2 separate regions of the Homo sapiens genome follow, and region 2 is linked to region 1. A link means that fine-mapping ties the variant in region 1 to the expression of a gene that starts in the linked region. Tissue or cell type: monocytes after LPS. Region 1 holds a variant in brackets; the other region holds the start of a gene. All regions are shown on one strand. Distances are between the middles of the regions.

Region 1 (11,176 bases):
GGGCCTCCCTTGGCCTGGTCAAGTTGACACATAAACCATCACAAGCATGCTGCGTGCATGGGGCGGTGAGACAGTTTCAGTGTGCTAATGGTGGGCCATAGGTGTGTGACGTCTGTTCCAGGGGTCTTGGGCAAGTACAGCCACCCTGCGGTCATTATGAGGTGACAGACTGGTAGACCACGCACCCCAGGGGGCAAGGACTATGTCTCATTCATTCATCTCTAACCTCTCAGGTCTTGTGCAATTTCTGCCCCATGGATTATGTTCTGAAGAGGCTCTTTGATTTACTCACCAACCTCAGCCACCCAAAACACTGCCAGGAACTCAGAAGACAGCCAGAGGGCCCTCTGAGCAAATAGAAGTTGCAAGTCCATGGATGGAAGTTTGATGCTCTTTTCATTGATCAGTTCTCAGGCTTTGTTTCTTCATTTTACATACAAGACAATTGCATGTGCTTATTCCGGCTTCCCAGCCTTCAGCAAACTGGCAGTTGGGTGGAGGAGCAGACACAGCCCAGGCAGGGCTGCAGCCAACACAGAAGGCACTTTGTTCAAATCAGAAAGAGGCACCCCTCTGAGTAGACAAATTACAGCAAGTTCCTCTTTGGATGGATGAATTGCAAAACCTCACCCTCCCTGCCTGAGTAAATTACAAAAAGGCCAGCAGAGCGGTGGGCTGGACTGCAGCCTCCACTCACCCACTAAGTGCAGAACACAGCTGGTGCTGCTGAAATGAGGAATCATACATGAGAAGTCAAACAGTAACAGCCACTCAATGTAGGATAGGGCTACCCTCGCCTACTGATAGCTCCTGCCATCGCCACCGTTTTATGGCACGGTGCATACAATGAGCTTCCATTGAGACTCATTGAGAAAACAGCCAGGCGCCTGGCTCACGCCTCTAATCCCAGCACTCTGGGAGGCCGAGGTGGGTGGATCACCTGAGGTCAGGAGTTCGAGACCAGCCTGGCTAACATGGCGAAACCCTGTCTCTACTAAAAATACAAAAATTAGCCAGGGGTGGCGGCGGGTGCCTGTAATTCCTAGCCTCAGGGAGGCTAAGGCAAGAGAATCGTTTGAACCCAGGAGGCGGAGGTTGCAGTGAGCCGAGATCGCGTCACTGCACTCCAGCCTGGGCGACAAGAGCAAAACTGTCTCAAAAAAAAAAAAAAAAAAAAAAAAAGATTAATTGAGAAAACATTCAGAGGCATGGTTTGGTGCTTGAAAGGGCAAGCTTTATTTCCTAAAAAATTCTTCTCATTCCTGAAACGAAGACACATTTGATGTTGATGCATTTTAAGAATGAGCTGCTTCTATTTCCATTTCCTGTCTACGTGCAAGCTCATCCCCTGGGGGCTCTTCCCCCACACTGGTGTGGTCAGCAGCCCCAAAGGACAGGAAATCGACCACAAAGGTCTCCTGTGGGAGGAGCAAGGAAGCAGCACCTGCACAAATATATAGAAACGCTGAATAAATGTTTGATGAGTGAATGCGTGAGTGAATGAAGGAATGAGCAAATGAATAGGGAGGCTTTCTGACAGTTACTGGTAAAGTTTCTTAGAATTTTACTTTCCCTTTTTTTTTTTTTTTTTTGAGACAGAGTTTCACTCTTGTTGCCCAGGCTGGTGTGCAGTGGCACGATTGCAGCTCACTGCAACCTCTGCCTCCCGGATTCAAGCGATTCTCCTGCCTCAGCCTCCCAAGTAGCTGGGATTACTGGCACCTGCCGCCACACCCAGCTAATTTTTTGTATTTTTAGTAGAGACGGGGTTTCACCATGTTAGCTAGGATGGTCTCGATCCCTGATCTTGTGATCCGCCTGCCTCAGCCTCCCAAAGGGGAATTTTACTTTCAATTAAAAATCAGCCCAGAAGCACTCTCCATTTGCCACAAAAATTCCTGGTATCTTACACTTCTCTTTTAGTCTTTATCTGTGAGATTTCTTTTCTTTCGAGGCTGCCCCGTGTTCATTATTAACCCAGGCCGCCCCAGACAGAAGTTTGTGTTCATTTTATTTCACAAAGACAGAGGGGGGTTCTGTGAGGTTTACAGAGGGGAAAGGAAGGCATGCGGACGTCAGGGGAAGTGGCCATGACCCCACGCCCCAGGTTGAGATCTGGGCTCTAGCCCTGGTTCTATCCTTCATGGCCACGTGGCTTTTGGCAATATTCTTCACTTTCATTCATTCATCAAATATTTATCTAAAATAGGTATTCATTGTCCACTGAGTGGCTGCTGCCCTAGATGCTGGACATGCTGCAGTGAAGGAGACACGCCCCATCCCAGTATTTGCCGAGTTCGCATTCTAATGACTAGCCAAGAAAACTAAGCCTGACAGGAAAAATTTCCATACTGATAAATGCTATGAATAAAATCAGAGTGTGCTAGAGTGTGACAGGGAGGGCTATTTTGGACAGGATGTTCAGGAAAGGCCTCTGAGGCAGTGACATTGACAACAAGACCTGAATGTCGAGGGGGAGCCAGCTGTGGGGAAAGCTGGGGGAAGGGTGCTCCAGGCAGGGGTGTGCAAAGGTTACGTTAAACCCACAGCACAACGTTCTTAAATTGACTGGCGGGCTCCCAGATGTTCATGTAATTACTATGTCCCTGAACATAATATATTAGCTCTCTTCTTTTGTGTGTGCCATCTGTTACACAGTAAAAAATAAGGTCAAATATACTTAAGATTAAGAAATCAGAAAATGTAGAAATGTATTAAAAATTACCTGTGACCCCACTGTTTATGGGTAAGTAATATCACTTTTTTTGTAGTTTAGTGTGTATCATTAAAAGGTAAGAGACTGACACACACACAAGTACAGGTGAAACTGGGGAAATCGGAATAAAATGTATCGACATCAACATCCTGGGGTTTTTTGTTTGTTTGTTTTTGAGATGGAGTTTCACTCTTTCACCCAGGCTGGAGTGCAGTGGTAAGACCTCAGCTCACTGCAAACTCCATCTCCTGGGTTCAAGCGATTCTCCTGCTTCAGCCTCCCGGGTAGCTGGGATTACAGGCACCTGCCACCATGCCTGGCTAATTTTTGTATTTTTATTAGAGACGTGGTTCCACCATTTTGGCCAGCCTGGTCTCGAACTCCTGACCTCAAGTGATCCACCTGCCTCACCATCCCAAAGTGTTGGGATTATAGGCGTGAGCCACCACGCCTGACCAATATCTTGATTTTGATACAGTAACATTGTTTGCAAGATGTTATCACTGGGGGGAAACTGGGTAAAGGGTACCCAGAAACTCTGTGCTATTTCTTGCCACTGCATGGGAATTTACAGTTATCTCAGAATTAAAAGTTTGACTAAAAAAGAGATAAAGACTCCTTTATCTGACACTGACCTATTTTCTGACCCTGTAGTTTTTATTTTCGTTTCTAGAATGTCATATAAATGGAACCATACGGCATGCAGGATTTAGCGCCTGGCTGCCTTTACTCAGCATGTCTCTGAGATTCACGCGTGTCGTTGCACGTAGTTCTCTTTTTAATGCCGAGGATTCTGCTGTGTGGGTGTATCACAGTTTGCTCATTCACGTACCCACTGAAGGCATTTGTGTTGTTTCCAGTTTGGGGCCATTCTGAATAGAGCTGCTATATATATCCATGAGCAGGTGTTTGTGTGAACATAAGTTTTTATTTCTCTGGAGGAAAAAGCTAGGGATTACGGGATCATACAGTAAGTGACGCATAACTTTATGAGAAATTGTCAAACTGTTTTCCAGAACGGCTGTGCCATTTTGCATTCTCACCAGTAACGTATGAGAATTCCAATTCCTCCTGACGGGTTGATGGGTGCAGCAAACCACCATGGCACGTGTATACCAATGTAACAAACCTGCACGTTCTGCACATGTATCCCAGAACTTAAAGTATAATTTTTAAAAAGAGAGAATTTCAGTTCCTCCGTGTGCTCTCCAGCACTTTCTATTGCTCATTTTAAAATCTTAGTCATTCTAATAGGCATATAGTGAGATCTCATGGTTTTCATCTGCCTTTCCCAAACTGCTGATAGCATTGAGCATTTTTTTAATGTGTTTATTTGCCATCCACATATCTTTTTTAGTAAAGTATTTATTTAGATCTTTTGCCCATTTGGGGAGTATTATTTGTTTTCTTACTGTTGAATTTTGAGAGTTATTTATTTATCCTAGTTTTCTTTTTTTTTTCTTTGTCAGATGTGATTTGCAAATATTTTCTCTAGGTCTATACTTTGCTTCTTCATTTTATTTTATTATTTTATTTTATTTTATTGTTGTTTTGTTTTGTTTTGTTTTGTTTTGTTTTGTTTCTGAGATGGAGTCTCGCTCTGTCACCCAGGCTAGAGTCCAGTGGCACGATCTCAGCTCACTACAACCTCTGCTGCCCGGGTTCAAGTGATTCTCCTGCCTCAGCCTCCTGAGTAACTGGGATTACAGGCATGAGCCACCACAGCCAACTAATGTTTGTATTTTTAGTAGAAATGGGGTTTCACTATATTGGCCAGGCTAGTCTTGAACTCCTGACCTCAGGTGATCCACCCACCTTGGCCTCCCAAATGTTGGGATTACAGGTGTGAGCCACTGTGCCCGGCCCGTTTTTTCATTTTGTTAAAGGTATCTGTCATAAAACCAAAGTTTTAAATTTTGATGAAGTCTAATTTGTCATGTTTTTCCTCTTATGGATCATGCTTTGGTATTGTATCTAAAAACTTCTTCCTTCACATGAGGTTACAAGGATTTTTTCCTATGCTTTCTTCTAAAAGTTTATTGTTTTGAATTTTACATTCAAATCTATGTCCACTTTTAGTTTATTTTTGTGTAAGGTCTGGAATTTACGTCAAGGTTTTGCTTCTTGTTTTGCATATCGATGATCAATTGTTCCATCACCATTTGTTGAAAAGACTCCTTTCTCCATTGACTTGCCTTTACAACTTTATCAAAAATCAATTAGCCATATCTGTGTGGGCCTGCTTCCGAACTCTTCGTTCTGTTCCATTGATTTATGTGTCTAGCCCTTCACTAATAACTTTATAGTAATTCTTAAAATAAGGAGTGCGAAGCTGAGCGTGGTGGCTCACACCTGTAATCCCAGCACTTTGGGAGACCGAGGCGGGAGGATAACGAGGTCAGGAGTTCAAGACCAGCCTGGCCAACATAGTGAAACCCTGTCTCTACTAAAAATACAAAAATTACCTGGGCATGGTGGCGTGTGCCTGTAGTCCCAGCTACCTGGGAGGCTGAAGCAGGAGAATTGCTTGAACCCAGGAGGCGGAGGTTGCAGTGAGCCAAGATCACGCATCGCACTCCAGCCTGGCGACAGAGCAAGACTCCGTTTCAAAAAAAAATAAAAATAAAGGAGTGTGAGTTCTCAGGCATTATTCATTTTCAAAACTGTTTGGCTAATCCAATTCCTCTGCCTTTCCCTATAAACTTTAGAATTGACTTATATGTATCTACAAAAAAAAATCCTGCTGGTATTTTTATTGGAATTACCTTAAATATGTAAATGATTTTGGAGAGAATTGACTTTTTTTTTTTTTTTTCAGACGGAGTCTCTCTCTGTCACCAGGCTAGAGTACAGTGGCATGATCTCAGCTCACTGCAACCTCCGCCTCCTGGGTTCAAACGATTCTCCTGCCTCAGCCTCCCGAGTAGCTGGGACTACAGGCGCATGCCACCACACCCAGCTAATTTTTTCCATTTTTAGTAGAGACAGGGTTTCATCATGTTAGCCAGGATGGTCTTGATCTCCTGGCCTCGTGACCTGCCCCCCTTGGCCTCCCAAAGTGCCGGGATTACAGATGTGAGCCACTGTGCCTGGCTGAGAATTGACATCTTAACTATACTGGGTCTTCCAAACAATGAACACAGTATTTCTCTCCATTTATTTAGGTCTTCTGTGATTTATCTAATTAGCATTTCATAGTTTTCATCATATGGCTCCTGCACGTTTTGTTAGATTTATCTCTAAATATTTATTTATTATTTTATTATTATTATTATTATTTTTTTTTTTTTTTGAGATGGAGTCTTGCTCTGTCACCCAGGCTGGAGTGCAGTGGCACAATCTCGGCTCACTGCAAGCTCCACTGCCCGAGTTCACACCATTCTCCTGCCTCAGCCTCCCGAGTAGCTGGGACTACAGGC[A/G]CCCGCCACCACCCCTGGCTAATTTTTTGTATTTTTAGTAGAGACGGGGTTTCACCATGTTAGCCAGGATGGTCTCCATCTGCTGATCCTGTGATCTGCCCCCCTCGGCCTCCCAAAGTGCTGGGATTACAGGCGTGAGCTACTGCGCCCCACCTAAATATTTATTTAAAAAAAAAATTTGGAGCTATTGTAAATGGTATTGTATCTTCCGAATTCAGCCAATACAGATGTACACCATAATTTTATAACTGCATAGTATTTTGTTGCACAGATTAATTTATTTACTTGGTACTCTATAATTGTGCCTTTATTTTTTTTTTCTGGTTGTACTCTATTGTTAACAATGTTTTAATGAATGCTGTTGTACATATCATTTATCCATTTGTCCAATATTTCCCTTCAGATAGGTTTTTAAAGGTCGAATTGCTTAGACAAAAAAGTATGAATATTTTGAATTTTGATAAATATTGTCCAGCAATCACCCAGAAAGGCTATACTAATTTCTCTTCTCACCAACTATGTATGACTGGAAATTTTCTCATATCCTATCCTTGCCAATACTGGATGTCATTATCTTTTGTCATAATTTTTGCCACTCTCTCTCTTTTTTTTTTTTTTTGAGACAGAGTCTCCCTCTGTCACCCAGGCTGGAGTGCAGTAGCGACATCTTGACTCACTACAACCTCCACCTCCCAGGTTCAAGTGATTCTCCTACCTCAGCCTCCCAAGTAGCTGGGATTACAGGCACACGCCACCACACCTGGCTAATTTTTTTATTTTTTAGTAGAGACGGGGTTTCACCACGTTGGTCAGGCTGGTCTCGAACTCTTGACCTCATGATCCGCCCACCTCGGCCTCCCCAAGTGCTGGGATTACAGGTGTGAGCCACCGCACCTGGCCTGCCACTCTCATTTTAATATTCATTTCTATGATTGTCAGTAGGCTGAAATTGTAGTACATTATAATTACAATCCATTGCTGAATTCAATGAGTTGATATCTACTTTTAAATGTTATATCGATATTTGCATGTAAGTGTGGTCTAGTTTGCTATTTTGGTAAAATATGGATATGTAAAATTTACCATCTTAACCATTTTTAAGTATATAATTCAATGGCATTAAGTACATTCACAATATTGAGCAACCATTACTGCTATCCATTTCCAGAACCTTCTCATCATTCCAAACAGAGACTCTGTACCCATTAAACAGTAACTTCCCTTTCATCCCTTCCCCAGTCCCTGGTAACCTCTGTCATACTTGCTGTCTCTGCCTCTGTGAATTTGCCTATTCTAGGTATCTAATATTAGTGGAATTATACAATATTTGTCCTTTTATGACTGACTTACTTCACTCAGCATAATGTTCTCAAGGTTCATCCATGATGCAGCATATATCTGAATTTCATTCCTTTTTAAGGCTGAATAACTTTCCACTCTATGTATAAATCATATTTTGTTTATCTGTTCATTGCTTCTCTGTTGATGGACATTTGAGTTGCTTCTACCATTTTGCTGTTTTGAATAATGCTTCTATTAATATTGGTGTGCAAGTATCTGTTTGAGTTCCTGTTTTCAATTCGTTTGGGTCTTTACCTAAAAGTGAAATTGTTAGATCATGTGATAATTCTATGCTTGACTTTTTGAAGAACATGCCATACGATTTTCCACAGCGGCGATGCCATGTTGAATTCCCACCAGCAATGCACCACATCCTCCCAGAGTCTGCGCCCCAGAGCAATAAACTCAATGACTGGAAAGCAGGGGGACTCCAAACAAATCCAATTTCTCCACATCCTTGCCAATGCTTGTTATTTTGTGGTTTTTTGTTTGGTTGGTTTGTTTTGTTTTGTTTTGTTTTGGGACGGAGTCTCACTCTGTCGCCCAGGCTGGAGTGCAGTGGCGCGATCTCGGCTCACTGCAAGCTCCGCCTCCCGGGGTTCACGCCATTCTCCTGCCCCAGCCTCCCAAGTAGCTGGGACTACAGGCGCCCACCACCACGCCCGGCTAATTTTTGTATTTTTAGTAGAGACAGGGTTTCACCATGTTAGCCAGGATGATCTCCATCTCCTGACCTCGTGATCTGCCCGCCTCGGCCTCCCAAAATGCTGGGATTACAGGAGTGAACCATCGTGCCCGGCCGGTTTTTTGTTTTTTTGTTTTTGTTTTTTTTTTCTGTATATCTAAAATGGTCATTCCAATGGGTGTGAAGTGCGTGATCCATTTTTTTTTTAACTACCTTTATTAGATTTTGGTATCAAGGTGAAGCTGGCCTTGTCCAATAAACTGAGAATCTTCTCTTCTTTCTCCATGCTTTGGAGCAGATTAAATAACGTAGATATTTTCTTTGTAGGTTTGAAAAAACTTATCAGAAGAACTATCTGAGCCAGACACCACTCTCTTAGAGCTAGTTCTTTGACAACTGTCTCTATTTCCTCACTGGTTACAAATATAAGCAGTTTTTCTAACTCTTCTAGAGCCTTTTGAGTCATTTTTATTGTCCTAGAAAACCATGTGCGACACAGGGGACTCAGATTTTCTTTTTTGGTATAAAGAAATATATATATGACATTTATCATTTCTAATATTGTCTCTTCGTTATCTCTTTTTAGATTAGCTTTCCCAGTTATACGTTTGTTTGTTTGTTCGCTTGTTTTCTCTCCAAAAACAATCTCTTAGGTTTATTTGGAGTTCCTCTGCGTTCTAGTCATTGGGTTTATCGCTCTGGGGAGCAGACTCTGGGAGGACCTCCCACTGGGGTCACAGTGGAGCAGACAGAGGTCATGCTTAAGGGAGGGCTCTAGAGCCAGACGGTCTGAGTTCCAAGTCCTCATTCCTTGCTTACTAGCTATTTAACTTTGAATAGCTATTTACCCTCTCTGTGTTTCAGTTTCCCCATCTGCAGAACTGGGGAGGGGGGAGAGATAGAACCTGCCTCATAAGCTTAATATTAATATTAAAAAGTTGGCATTTCTTAAGTGCTTAGAAGAGTGATGCCTGGCACATAGTAAGCACTATATAAGTTTTCTCTTTTTTCTTTCTTTTTTTTTTTTTTTTGAGCCAGTCTCACCCTTGCCCAGGCTGGAGTGCAATGGCACCATCTCAGCTCACTGCAACATCCGCCTCCCAGGTTCAGGCGATTCTCCTGCCTCAGCCTCCTGAGTAGCTGGAATTACAGGCACCTGCCACCATGCCCAGCTAATTTTTTGTATTTTTAGTAGAGACGGGGTTTCACCATGTTTGTTGGGCTGGTCTCGAACTCCTGACCTCAAGTGATCCACCCGCCTTGGCCTCCCAACGTGCTGGGATTACAGGCATGAGCCACTGCACCCAGTCATAAGTTTTCTTAAATACATCTAGACTTCCCCCCAGTGTGCTAGAAGCCTAGGTCCCTTAGGAGCTTCTCCATTTCCCAAGGTGCTTTCTGCACCTTCCCACTGCTTCCACTAATTAACTACCTCTTATTTTGCAGAACCACCTCTGTGCAGAAAAGCAACCACCTTGTTCTCTATTCTGCTGCCCGAGACAACCACATCCTCCTCCTCCTACACCCAAAGGCTCCCATGGAGAGCTCAGGTCAGTGTGGTGGGGGGAAAGGGGTCTAGTGAGCCTGCTGCCGAGTGGGGAAGGCCCTTCTCATGGGTGAGGATGCCTCTAGGGCTGGCAGGACCCCCTGCACATAGACAGGCTGCAAGACCCCAATTCAGGGATCCTGCCTAAATGTAAGAACATCTTGAGAGTTGGACATCTACACACTTGCACAAGGCTCCAACTGCTCGCTGGACACTGAGCTTGACAATGGGAATAATGACAAGAATAGCCAAGATTGATTGCCAAATACTTGTGACTATTTAACAAAAACCTATATAGCACTTACAATGGATTGAGGAGGGATAAAAGCACTTGACAAATATGAACTCATTTAGTCTTGGTTAACCTCCTAAGACAGGTATTATTACTCTCGTTTTACAGGAGGGGAAATGGAGGCATGCCAGGGGCAGGTACTTTTCCCCCAGTCACATAGCTATTGAGTGGTCAAATCAGGAGTGGAACCCAATAGTCTAGCTCCAGTGTCTAGGCTTAATGATTTCAGTATGGATTGCTTCGCAAAAATGCCAGAAGGATTCTGTGAGGTGGGGCTAGCACGATGATTATCCTCATTTTTCTGAGAGGTAAACTGAGGCTTGGAGAGGTTATATAATTTGCTCAAAGCCACACAGCTAGTAAGTGGCAAAGCCAGAAAGTGGGGCCTAGTCCGGCTGATTTTCAAAGCCTGGACTCTTACCCTAAGTCAACTTGGGACAACAGGGAAAGATGACCAACCCCCACCAAGATGTGTGTCATCTATTGGTCACCCGGAAAGTCAAAGATCACACCTTAGGCCACCACGCTGAGACTCTAATTCCCCTAAAGATCCATCTCCTGGGGAAGGGAAGGGCATCCCCTAGGCAGGGTCAGCTGCTCGGTTGCTAATATTCCTATGGCATAAATTCTTTTGACATCCATCCATCCAACCATCCATCCATCCTCAGAGAGCCTCGTCCAATCAGAAGTAGCTCCATGGAGTCAGGCAACCCCAGTGAATCCTGGTGTTACAATATTCTGGGTCATCTGTAACCAGCTGGGGTTTGGGGTGGGAGGCTCGGAATGGGGAAGCTCTGTGAAAATCTCCTAAATACAGTCAGGCACTGCATATTGGCAATGTTTTGGTCAACGACGAGCCTTATAAACAGCAGCGGTCCCATAAGAGAGTACCATATTTTTACTGTACCTTTTCTATGTTTAGATATGTTTAGACACACAGATACCATTGTGTGACAACTGCCTACAGTACTCAGTGCAGTCACACGCTGTGTAGGTTTGTAGCCTAGGTGTGTAGTAGGCTATGCTGTGTAGGTTTGTGTAAGTGCACTCTGTGATATTCATACAATGATGAAATTGCCCCGTGACATATTTCTCGGAACATATCGCCGTAGTTAAGTGACACATCAAGGTATTTCAAAACCAACTTACTTTGCACTCACTTTATAACAATAAATAC
Region 2 (9,588 bases), 56 kb after region 1:
CAACAGCACCACCTCCCTCCCAAGTCTCTTCCCTTCCCACTCTCAGGCCACTGCCCACCTCACTCAGCCCAGGCAGGTGTCTCTATCAGGTGAGAGAAAAATGTCAGACTCAATAAATGTACACTGAAGTCTTTCTGCTTTCATCTCATACCTGGCAATATTTATATGTTAATAGGAATCATCAGGGCAGTCCTTTTTATAACCTATTGAGTCCACTTGGGCCAGGTAAGAGTTCTGTGAAGTATAAACTAGTGTGTTCTGTCTCCTGCCCCTTGCTTACTCTGTCACTGCTCTGGAGTGCAGTGGCACAATCACAGCTCACTGCAGCCTCCATCTCTCAGGCCCAAGCGATCCTCCCACCTCAGCTTCTCAAGTAGCTGGGACCACAGGTGCATGACACCATGCCCTACTACATTTGGGATTTTTTGTTTTGGGGCCTTTTTTTTTTTTTTTTGACAGTCTTGCTCTGTCACCCAAGCTGGAGTGCAATGGCATGATCTCAGCTCACTGCAACCTCCACCTCCCGGGCTTAAGCGATTCTCCCTGCCTCAGCCTCCCAAGTAGCTAGGATTACCAGCATGCACCACCACGCCCTGCTAATTTTTGTACTTTTAGTAGAGACAGGGTTTCACCATGTTGGCCAGGTTGGTCTCAAACTCCTGACCTCAGGTGATCTGCCCGCCTCAGCCTCCCAAAGAGCTGGGATTACAGGCATGAGCCACTGCACCCGGCCGTTTTGGGGCTTTTTTTTTTTTTTTTTTTTTTTTTTTTGTAGAGATGAGGTCTTCCTAAGTTGCCCAGGCTGGTCTTGAATTCCTTGGTTCAAGGGATCCTCCCACCTCGGCCACCCAAAGTGCTGGGATTACAGGCGTGAGCCACCACACTGGCCAAGCCAGAGATTAAAGACACCAAAATTCTTGGCTTTTATGTTCAAAAACTTACATCCAAGTGTAAAATAGAAAGATCAATGACACATCTTCAGTTTCTTCATCCCCAGAAATAGGTATGGTGTGGGGGGAGAGTAACAGAGAAAACAAAAATGCTTGGACTTGAGTCCTATCACCTGTAGAAGATTCCCTTTTAAGTTTGGGAATCCAAGAATAGAGAAGAGGGCGCCTTGCTTTGGGCCAAATTGCCCCAGGAGTGGAAGCAAGTCTCAATGGCAGGATACCTTCTCAATGCCAAGGGGAGTGTAAGATGGACCACCTGGGGTGCAGAGCCAGAGGGGTCCAAGGTCAGTCTTAGAGAGATTCCCTGTGCTTGTACAGGACATGGGAAGCAGGCGGAGATTTTCTCGGGTGGCTGAAAGCAGGCAAGCTCAAAGGGAAAATGGTGCAGCTGCAGGCAGCAGTGTGGAGCATGGCACCTGAAGGCCAGGTGCAGAATTGTAGGCACCTCCACAGACTCCAGCATGGTGCAGTGAGGGAGGGAGCCTGGAGGATGCCATTCACTCCATTCTCACTGCCCCCACCCTGACTGATGGTTTTACTTGCCTGAAGCAATCCAGGTGTTTAGCCCAAGTTCCTGGGCAACATGGGCAGCCAGAGGCTGGGCGGGGCCCTTGGTCTAGCTCCAGGTGCACCCTGCAGGCCCCAGGACATGCCCCTCGCACACCTGCACATGTCCAGGCACATTGGAGTCTGACATCTGCCTCCCAGTGGAGATGAACCCAGGACAGGTCAGGACTGAGAAGTGGATGGATGCGCTATCCTCCACTGAGGCTGCCCACAGAAGAACCCAGGGAGGGGCAGGAGTAGGGCAATCATTAGTGTGACTGAGGTGGTTTTAAACCTGAAATGATTGCAGTAGCACTGAATTTGAGTGAGTTTACCTGGAGGAGACTAGATTTTATTTTTCCTGCCATTGGTATGATATAAACGGATTCATACCAATTTCATCACCAATCATTAGGTTTTCAGTAGATGTCTGCAGAGTTTACCAGTTTTTTAGGTTAAGTGAGGCCCCTGGGCCTGCTCCCCAACATACTCTCTACCAGCTGACAATGCAGGCAAGTCATAGGCCGAATTCCCTTACACATAGACATGTGTTGGCAAGCAGTTCCACTCCACCCCCAGCCAAATTAGGTGCTCTGAGCAAACCTTGTATGAAAAGTTTACTGAATCAGGAGCTGCACACTGGACCATTTTGAAGCAAAGCCTATAGCATCCTTCCAAAGGGTTTGGACTACTGGCATCTCTAGATTTTTTTTTTTTTTTTTTGAGACGGAGTCCCACTCTGTTGCCCAGGATGGAGTGCAGTGGCGTGATCTCGGCTCACTGCAAGCTCCACCTCCCGGGTTCATGCCATTCTCCTGCCTCAGCCTCCCAAGGAGCTGGGACTACAGGCACACACCACCACAACCAACTAATTTTTTTGTATTTTTAGTAGAGACAGGGTTTCACCGTGTAAGCCAGCATGGTCTCGATCTCCTAACCTCGTGATCCACCTGCCTCGGCCTCCCAAAGTGCTGGGATTACAGGCATGAGCCACCGCACCAGGCCATCTCTAGATTATTATAGCCTGTTCCAGCAAGAGAGGAAATGCCTTCAAAAAAATTATCTCCAATCCAGGTGGCTTGGACACCACTAATTTCACCAGTGAAAAACTATTTCTAATATCTATTATGTCCATTAGTGAAGACACTTCTGTTGATTTAAGATTGTCGACGTGCTTGTACTAGCTGTCTCTGTCTTTTTGATGAAATGCTAGCTAACCACCTCAAGTGTGTGTACTCTCAAACAGGGCACCAGACCACCCTTAGGTGTAGGTTAAAACTGTGCAGCACATACATATGGCTCTGGGGACTGCCATGTGCTGGCGATCGGCTGCAAGGAGTTCCCCTGGACGACTGCCATCAGCTGTCAGCCCTCCTTAGGGACTGTCCCAGCTGGAGACAACCATGTCACCCAAGGTCATGCCATTTCCGAGGGCAGTATGCATCCAATGAAACAATTCTAGGCCCCGGGGACAAAAATACCTGCCTTCCTGGAGCTTGGATTCTGGTGGAGACAGACAATAAACAAAGTCAACACATGAAATATAAGCCCGTAGTGCCTTGGTCAGTGATAAGTTCTAGAGAGAACGATCAAGTAGGGCAGGGGAGTGGGAGTCTTGGGGGCGGGGTGGGTACAGGGGTATGGGATTTGCGATGTCAGAGTGGACCGTGTTGATCTCTGTCTGTGGTTGGTCACTGATCAGGGTGCATTCCAGTACAGACCTGAAGAAGATGAGGGAGACAGCCTGGTGGATACCATTCATTCCATTCTGGCTCCCCCCCACGCCGACTCTGACGGTTTTACTTGCCTGAAGCAGTCCAGGCGTTTAGCTCAGGCTCCTGGGCCACATTGGCAGCCAGAGGCCAGGCGGGGCCCGAGGCCTAGCTCAGAGCGCACCCTACAGGCCCCCGGACGCGCCCCTAGCGCACCTGCGCACGTCCGGGCAGGTGGCCCGCGGAGGCGGTGGGACGTGGCAGGTGCGGCTCGCAGGTGCGCTGGCCCCGCCCCCACCTTCGCCCCCGCCCCGCCTCTCCCTCCGGGCGGGGCCCCTTTCGGTCCAACGGCAGGACCTGGGGGCTGTGGCCGGGGGCGGCCGTTGACCTGGTGACCGCGGCGCCGCCCCAGACCGGGGGCGCAGTCCCACTCGCTCCGAGCCCCGGTCCCCCAAGCCTCCCTCCCGGGTACCTGGGGCCGCGCCCGCCCTGCGCCCAGCTCCGCCCTCCGTCGGCCCAGGCCTGACAGAGCCCGGCAGCCATGAGTGCCAACCCCCGGTGGGACATCAGCAGGGCGCTGGGGGTGGCCAAGCTCTTCCACCTGGTGTGCGGGGTGCGGGAAGCCTGCGTGACCCCGTTCCTGACCCTTTACCTGAGGCAGCTGGGCTTGGCCGCGCCCTGGGTGGGCACCCTAATGGGAACCAAGCACCTAATCGCTGCCTTCTGGGCTCCCGTCTGTGCCTTCCTGGCCAAAAGCTACCGGAAAAGGAGAGCGCTTCTGATCGGCTCCCTGCTCGGCTCGGTGGGGGCCAGCCTGCTGATGGTCCTGGTCCCACCGGTAGACAAAAATCGGGTGCACTTCCCTTGTAATGGAAGCAGCGGCCTGACCAGCACAGACGCACTCCCGGGGGTCACGCTACCTGTGAACATCACCTCGGCCCAAGAGTCTGCCTCCAGCCACCCAGCCAAGAGGACTGCAGAGGTGGAAATGCCTGGCTTCAGAAACCCACCTGGTGAAAGTGACCGAGAAACTTTCCGTGATCTGCACGTCTACTTAGCGCCCTCCGTTGAAGGAGCTAGGACCACATCCCAAGCTCTCCTCCATCCTGTCACTTCGGGGCTGAAAGATCATCCCTGGGAAGTTACTTTTGAGGTGGTCAAGACAGCCCTCCCCTTGCTTCCTGGGGGGAAAGGGCCCGGGAATCCAGCCAATTTGTCAGGGACCAAGGGGAAAGCCTGGGCTTTTGACCTGTCCTTGGAGGCGTTGCGGCGGACTTTTATCCTCTCCTTGGGGTCCGTGGCGTTCTGGGAGCTGCTGACAGCGCCTCTGGAGCAGGTGGCAGATGACAGCCTTTATGAGTTCCTGGATTTTGTGGATGCCACTGACCGATACAGAAGCCTGTGGGTCTGGAGGTTGCTGGGCATGTCGGCAGGCGTGTGTGGCATCACAGCCTTGGTGGGGCAGCTGGACTGCTTCCTGATGACCAGTGGCCCCCGAGGTGTGGTCCACTTCTATGGGTACTCGGTGGTCAGCACCCTGGCCTTACTGGTGAGCATTGCCTTTCCCATTCCCATCTGTCAGCAGTGGGAGCCCAGCTACAAAAGGGTCAAAGCACTGTCCATTGTGGGGGGTGACCCCCACCTCATTCTCCTCGCCTCCACCACTGTTTTGGTAGGAGCCATCGTCAGTACTGTCCAGAACTTTCTGTTCTGGCACATGAAGGACCATGGGAGCGGCGAGCTGGTCATGGGTTTCTCGGTCGCCCTCAGCTTGCTGGGGGAAATTCTGCTTCATCCGTTCAAAGCTACATTGCTTAGGAAACTGTCCAGGACGGGCCTGGTGGGGCTGGGGCTGAGCTGCCTCGCTGGGCAGCTGCTGTACTACTCTTTCCTCTGGAGCTGGTGGTCCGTCCTCCCCATTCAGATCTTGAGTGCCATTAGCAACAGAGCTTTGTGGTGGGCTGTGGGGGCCTCAGTAGAGGACCTGGCCACTCCCCGCATGGAGAGGGCTCTGAGTGCCTTGTTCCGAGGCCACTTTTACGGGAGTGGCTGTAGCCTGGGCAGCTTTGTCGGGGGCTTCGTGGTGATGCGCTTCAGCCTGGCTGTGCTCTACCAGGCCTGCTGTGTGGCCCTGTTGCTCTGGTTGGCCTTGCTCCTGTCCATACAGCGGAGGCTGCCCCGAGAGCGGAAAATCAAGTACTCGAAGCTGCTGTCCATGGAGGTGAGTGACACCAGTGACTCTGAGCAGGGGACAGAACAGGACTGGCTTGTGAAGGCCATGAGGGAGGAACACTCAGACTGAAAGGGCTGAGAAATCCAGAGTGTGCTGATCCAGCAAGGAACGAATGGACTGAACAAAACTCAGCCTGCTGAGGACAGAAACCTGCCCTGGACTGCTGGGAGCCGGGGAAGAGAGGATGGGTCTGTGCTGAAGGCCCAACAGGATCATCTCATTGCATGATTTTCTTTACTTTTGAAGTAAAAGGAGATTTAACTTTTTGCCAATCTTTTTTAGATAATGGAGGAAGAATACATTTGCTTTTTAAAAAGTTCCCTCTATAGTCACTATATGTTTACGTTTAAGGTTTGCAAAAGTCCTGACTCAGGTGCTGTTGAATTCAGCAATGGCTGAAGCGATCAAATCAAACTGTCAGTGCCAGGAAGACCATGGGGACCTGCAGGATTCAGTTGGCAGAGAGGGCAGCTGACTTGGATGAATCATGGCATTCCCAGGGGTCATAAAGGCATTAGCCTGCTTCTGTGAAAGCCATGCTGTGGGCAGGTAAGAATGGTAATGGAGGACCGGGCGTGGTGGGTCATGCCTGTAATCCCAGCACTTTGGGAGGACGAGGCGGGTGGATCATGAGGTCAAAAGATCGAGACCATCCTGGCCAACATGGTGAAACCCCGTCTCTACTAAAGACACAAAAATTAGCTGGGCGTGGTGGCGCGCACCTGTAGTCCCAGCTACTCAGGAGGTTGAGGAAAGAGAATCACTTGAACCCTGGAGGTGGAGGTTGCAGTGAGCTGAGATCATGCCACTGCACTCCAGCCTGGTGACAGAGCAAGACTCCATCTCAAAAAAAGGATGGTAATGAAAACAAACTCCTTTCTGTTCCCACTGGTATACAGGTGCCCACACTCACACCCAAGTACTTCCAACAGGAGAAAATAATGGGAAATGTATGTGTGTTGGGGGGGAAGTGGGAGGTTAATAGGTTTCATTCTTACCTTCTCACACATGTGTGTCCCACTTAGAATCATCATCTATATTTACATCAGAGCAGGGGCAATTTCATGTCTTTTGAACTCACATTTTGCATGCTCTGCCTCACAAAGCACATGGAGATTTTAACATCTGTTTTATTGGGGTGCAGACATCTCCATAGGTCAGGGTGCTATAGGTTCTCCATGCTGTACCTGTGCCCAGGCACTTGGTGGGGTTTTGGGAGTGACAAACTAGTGCTTCTGCCTTCCCAAACTCCCCCAGGGGAAGGGCCTGGAATAAAGGGCCATTTATTTCAGAGGCCAGTCCCAGGGCCCAATTCTTCGACCTTATCATTAGTTAAACATAGGATATTGAATTTAGAAGAAGCCTCACTGCACAAATGCAGAAAACGTCTCACAGCTGGAGAAGGGGAAGCAGATATATGAATGTCCACTGGGTCAGACATGGTTCTAGGATCTTTATTTGTTGTTGTTGTTGTTTGTTTTTTTGTTTTGTTTTGTTTTGTTTTGAGACAGAGTCTCACTCTGTCGCCAGGCTGGAGTGCAGTGGCGCCATCTCGGCTCACTGCAACCTCCAAGTCCCTGGTTCAAGCGATTCTCCTGCCTCAGCCTGCCAAGTAGCTGGGATTACAGGCGTGCACCACCACACCCAGCTATTTTTTGTGTGTGTGTGTTTTTAGTAAAGATGAGGTTTCACCATGTCGACCAGGATGGTCTCGATTTCCTGACCTCGTGATCTGCCCGCCTCAGCCTCCCAAAGTGCTGGGATTATAGGCGTGAGCCACTGCACCTGGCCCTTTATTTGTTTTTTAATTCTCCCTAAGAAGTTTAAGGTACAAATAATCAACAAAAAAATTACCTCCACCCTAAACAATAGAGATTTGTCTCATATATATATAAAACATTTAGGGGTGGGCAGCCCAGAGATGCTGCCACTGCTGGATGATGCCACTAGGGATCTAGAATCTTTTCATCTCCTCACACTGTCATACTCAGCCTGTAAGCTACCCTCCCAGATTTGTACCCTCATAGGAACAAGATGGCTGCTGCTCTGCCAAGCCTTTCATCCATGTTCCAGGCAGTAAGAAAAGGGGAAGACAATAGGGCAAAGGGAGAAACAGGAACAAGTGTCTGTATCAAGAAAATAGGCTGCACGGTGGGTGGCTCACGCCTATAATCCCAGCACTTTGGGAGGCCGAGGCAGGAGGATTGCTTGAGCCCAGGAGTTGGAGACCAGCCTGGGAAACATGGTGAGACCTTGTCTCTTAAAAAAAAATAATAATTAGCCAGGTATGGGGTGTGCATCTGTAGTCTCAGCTACTCATGAGGCTGAGGTGGGAGGATAGCTTGAGCCCAGGAGTTTAAGACTGCAGTGAGTTGTTTGTGCCAATGCACTCCAGCCTGGGTTACAGAGCAAGACCCTGTTTCCAAACAAACAAACAAACAAACAAACAAGAAAAAGGAAAGATAAGCCTTCCCAGAAACTCCTCAGCAGAGAGAACCGTGTCACATGGCCACCCAGCTGCAAGGAAGTCTGGGAGGAAGTATTTTCAACTAGGCACAGTTACACACCAAGCAAAATCAGGGTTGCGTTAGGAAGAGGGGGCTGGATATAGAATTGGCAACTAACGACATCTGCAGCGGCCTCCACGATGGAACTCACAGCCGGGTCCAGCTTATTGCAAAGCCTGCATTCCTTTCACCCCACTAAGCCAGCTTCCCCGACAGAAATGACTTTAGTAATGTGACCCCCACAACTACTCTATGAATAAATCAAATTTGTTATCTGCATTTTACAAATGAGAAAGTGTAGTCTCAGAAGTCACACACTGGGTCACTGGCAGAAATACTACCAGAGTCCTGGATTTCCTTACTCCAAATTTGGGGCATTTTCTTCTGTGCCGGTAGTCTGGCTGTCGATCCAAGTAGGAGGAGCATTTGCAAAAAGCCAGGTTCCTGGGTTCCACCAGAATCTCACAGGTGGGGCTCAGTAATCTGCATTTTTGGAGCAATCTCCGAGTGATTCTGATGTGGTTAACCAAGCACTGTTTACTCGGTTGTCCTTTCCAGCTCTATTTGTCTCAACAGTTCTTTGCCAAATGTTTCCATTTGCAGTGAAACAAATAACAACTATTGAGTGGTCACTCTAGGCCAGGCACTGTTCTAAACAAGGTACGTGGTGTACGCGTACTAGCTCATCAAGTAATCATAGGACGTAGTCACCATTAGCATCTCCAGTTTCAGATGGCAGAACCGAAGGTTCAGTAACTTGCCTGAGGTCACGCAGCTAGTAAGTGGCAGAGTTGGTATTCAGATCCAGCCTGGTGGTTCCTGGGCCTGAGATTTTAATCACTGTGCTCTATGCTGGAGAAATTGAGGGGAAAGAGGGGGGGGATTAAATATTAAGATCTAAGGTAGCCATCACTTGAAATTGACTGGATAGTAGATAATATTTACTATTTCAACAGAACATACAATAATACCAAAAAGCAAACACATGTATGTCCTCTTAAACAAAAGGATGAGGAACAGGAACTGGCTTAAGAAAAGAGTTAAGTAAGTGTGATCTAGCCTGAACAAGAGGAAGAAGGAAGAGAAAAAGAAGCGTGAGTTGGGGGGAGGGGGTGTACAGGACAAGACCGAAGACTGAGGGAGGTGATGATTGATGGATCTAAAAGATTTTAAGGGAAGGATGGGAGGCCAAGATGTTCATTTGGGCTATTTAGTTAATGTTTGACTTTATGTTTTCTTTAATGTATGAAGCCCCTTTTTCCAAAGGGGAAAAAAAAAGTTGTGCTACTTGCCATGGGGAATTCAAGGATGAATAAAATGCACAGTCCACACCCTCAAGAAGCTAACAGTCTAACTAGAAGATTTACTTACACACACACACAAACACACAAACACACACACAACACACACACACACACGGAAGCACAGGACAGTGTGGGAGATGCTGCAGAAAAAGTATTACTAGAGTTTAAGAAAGAGAACATTTCTGACTCAATAACTCAAATAAGGTTTTGTGGAGATTATATTTAAGTCTAAGTCTTCAAGGATAGGTAAAGTTTATTTATTTATTTATTTTTACTTTTGTTTTATTTATTTATTTTTTTTCTGAGATGGAGTCTTGCTTTGTCGCCCAGGCTGGA

The links. PIP is the estimated chance that this variant, and not a neighbour inherited with it, causes the effect.
Region 2: MFSD6L starts here. The variant in region 1 is fine-mapped to the expression of MFSD6L in monocytes after LPS (Quach 2016, PIP 0.95).

Annotation. Positions count from the first base shown.
Region 1 is chr17:8,848,317-8,859,492 of GRCh38, reverse strand. It overlaps PIK3R6 (phosphoinositide-3-kinase regulatory subunit 6), which reads left to right. Exons shown (of 20, transcript NM_001010855.4): 2 at 9,608-9,711. The coding sequence starts at 9,699. Among named protein-coding and RNA genes, the nearest start is that of PIK3R6, 14 kb to the left of the region's middle. RefSeq lists an enhancer at 1-53. The variant A/G (reference allele first, on the strand shown) is at 6,136.
Region 2 is chr17:8,793,282-8,802,869 of GRCh38, reverse strand. MFSD6L (major facilitator superfamily domain containing 6 like) reads left to right here and starts at 3,505. Exons shown (of 1, transcript NM_152599.4): 1 at 3,505-5,760. The coding sequence starts at 3,750. The coding sequence ends at 5,510. PIK3R6 (phosphoinositide-3-kinase regulatory subunit 6) reads left to right here. Exons shown (of 20, transcript NM_001010855.4): 20 at 1-148. RefSeq lists a silencer at 3,372-3,431.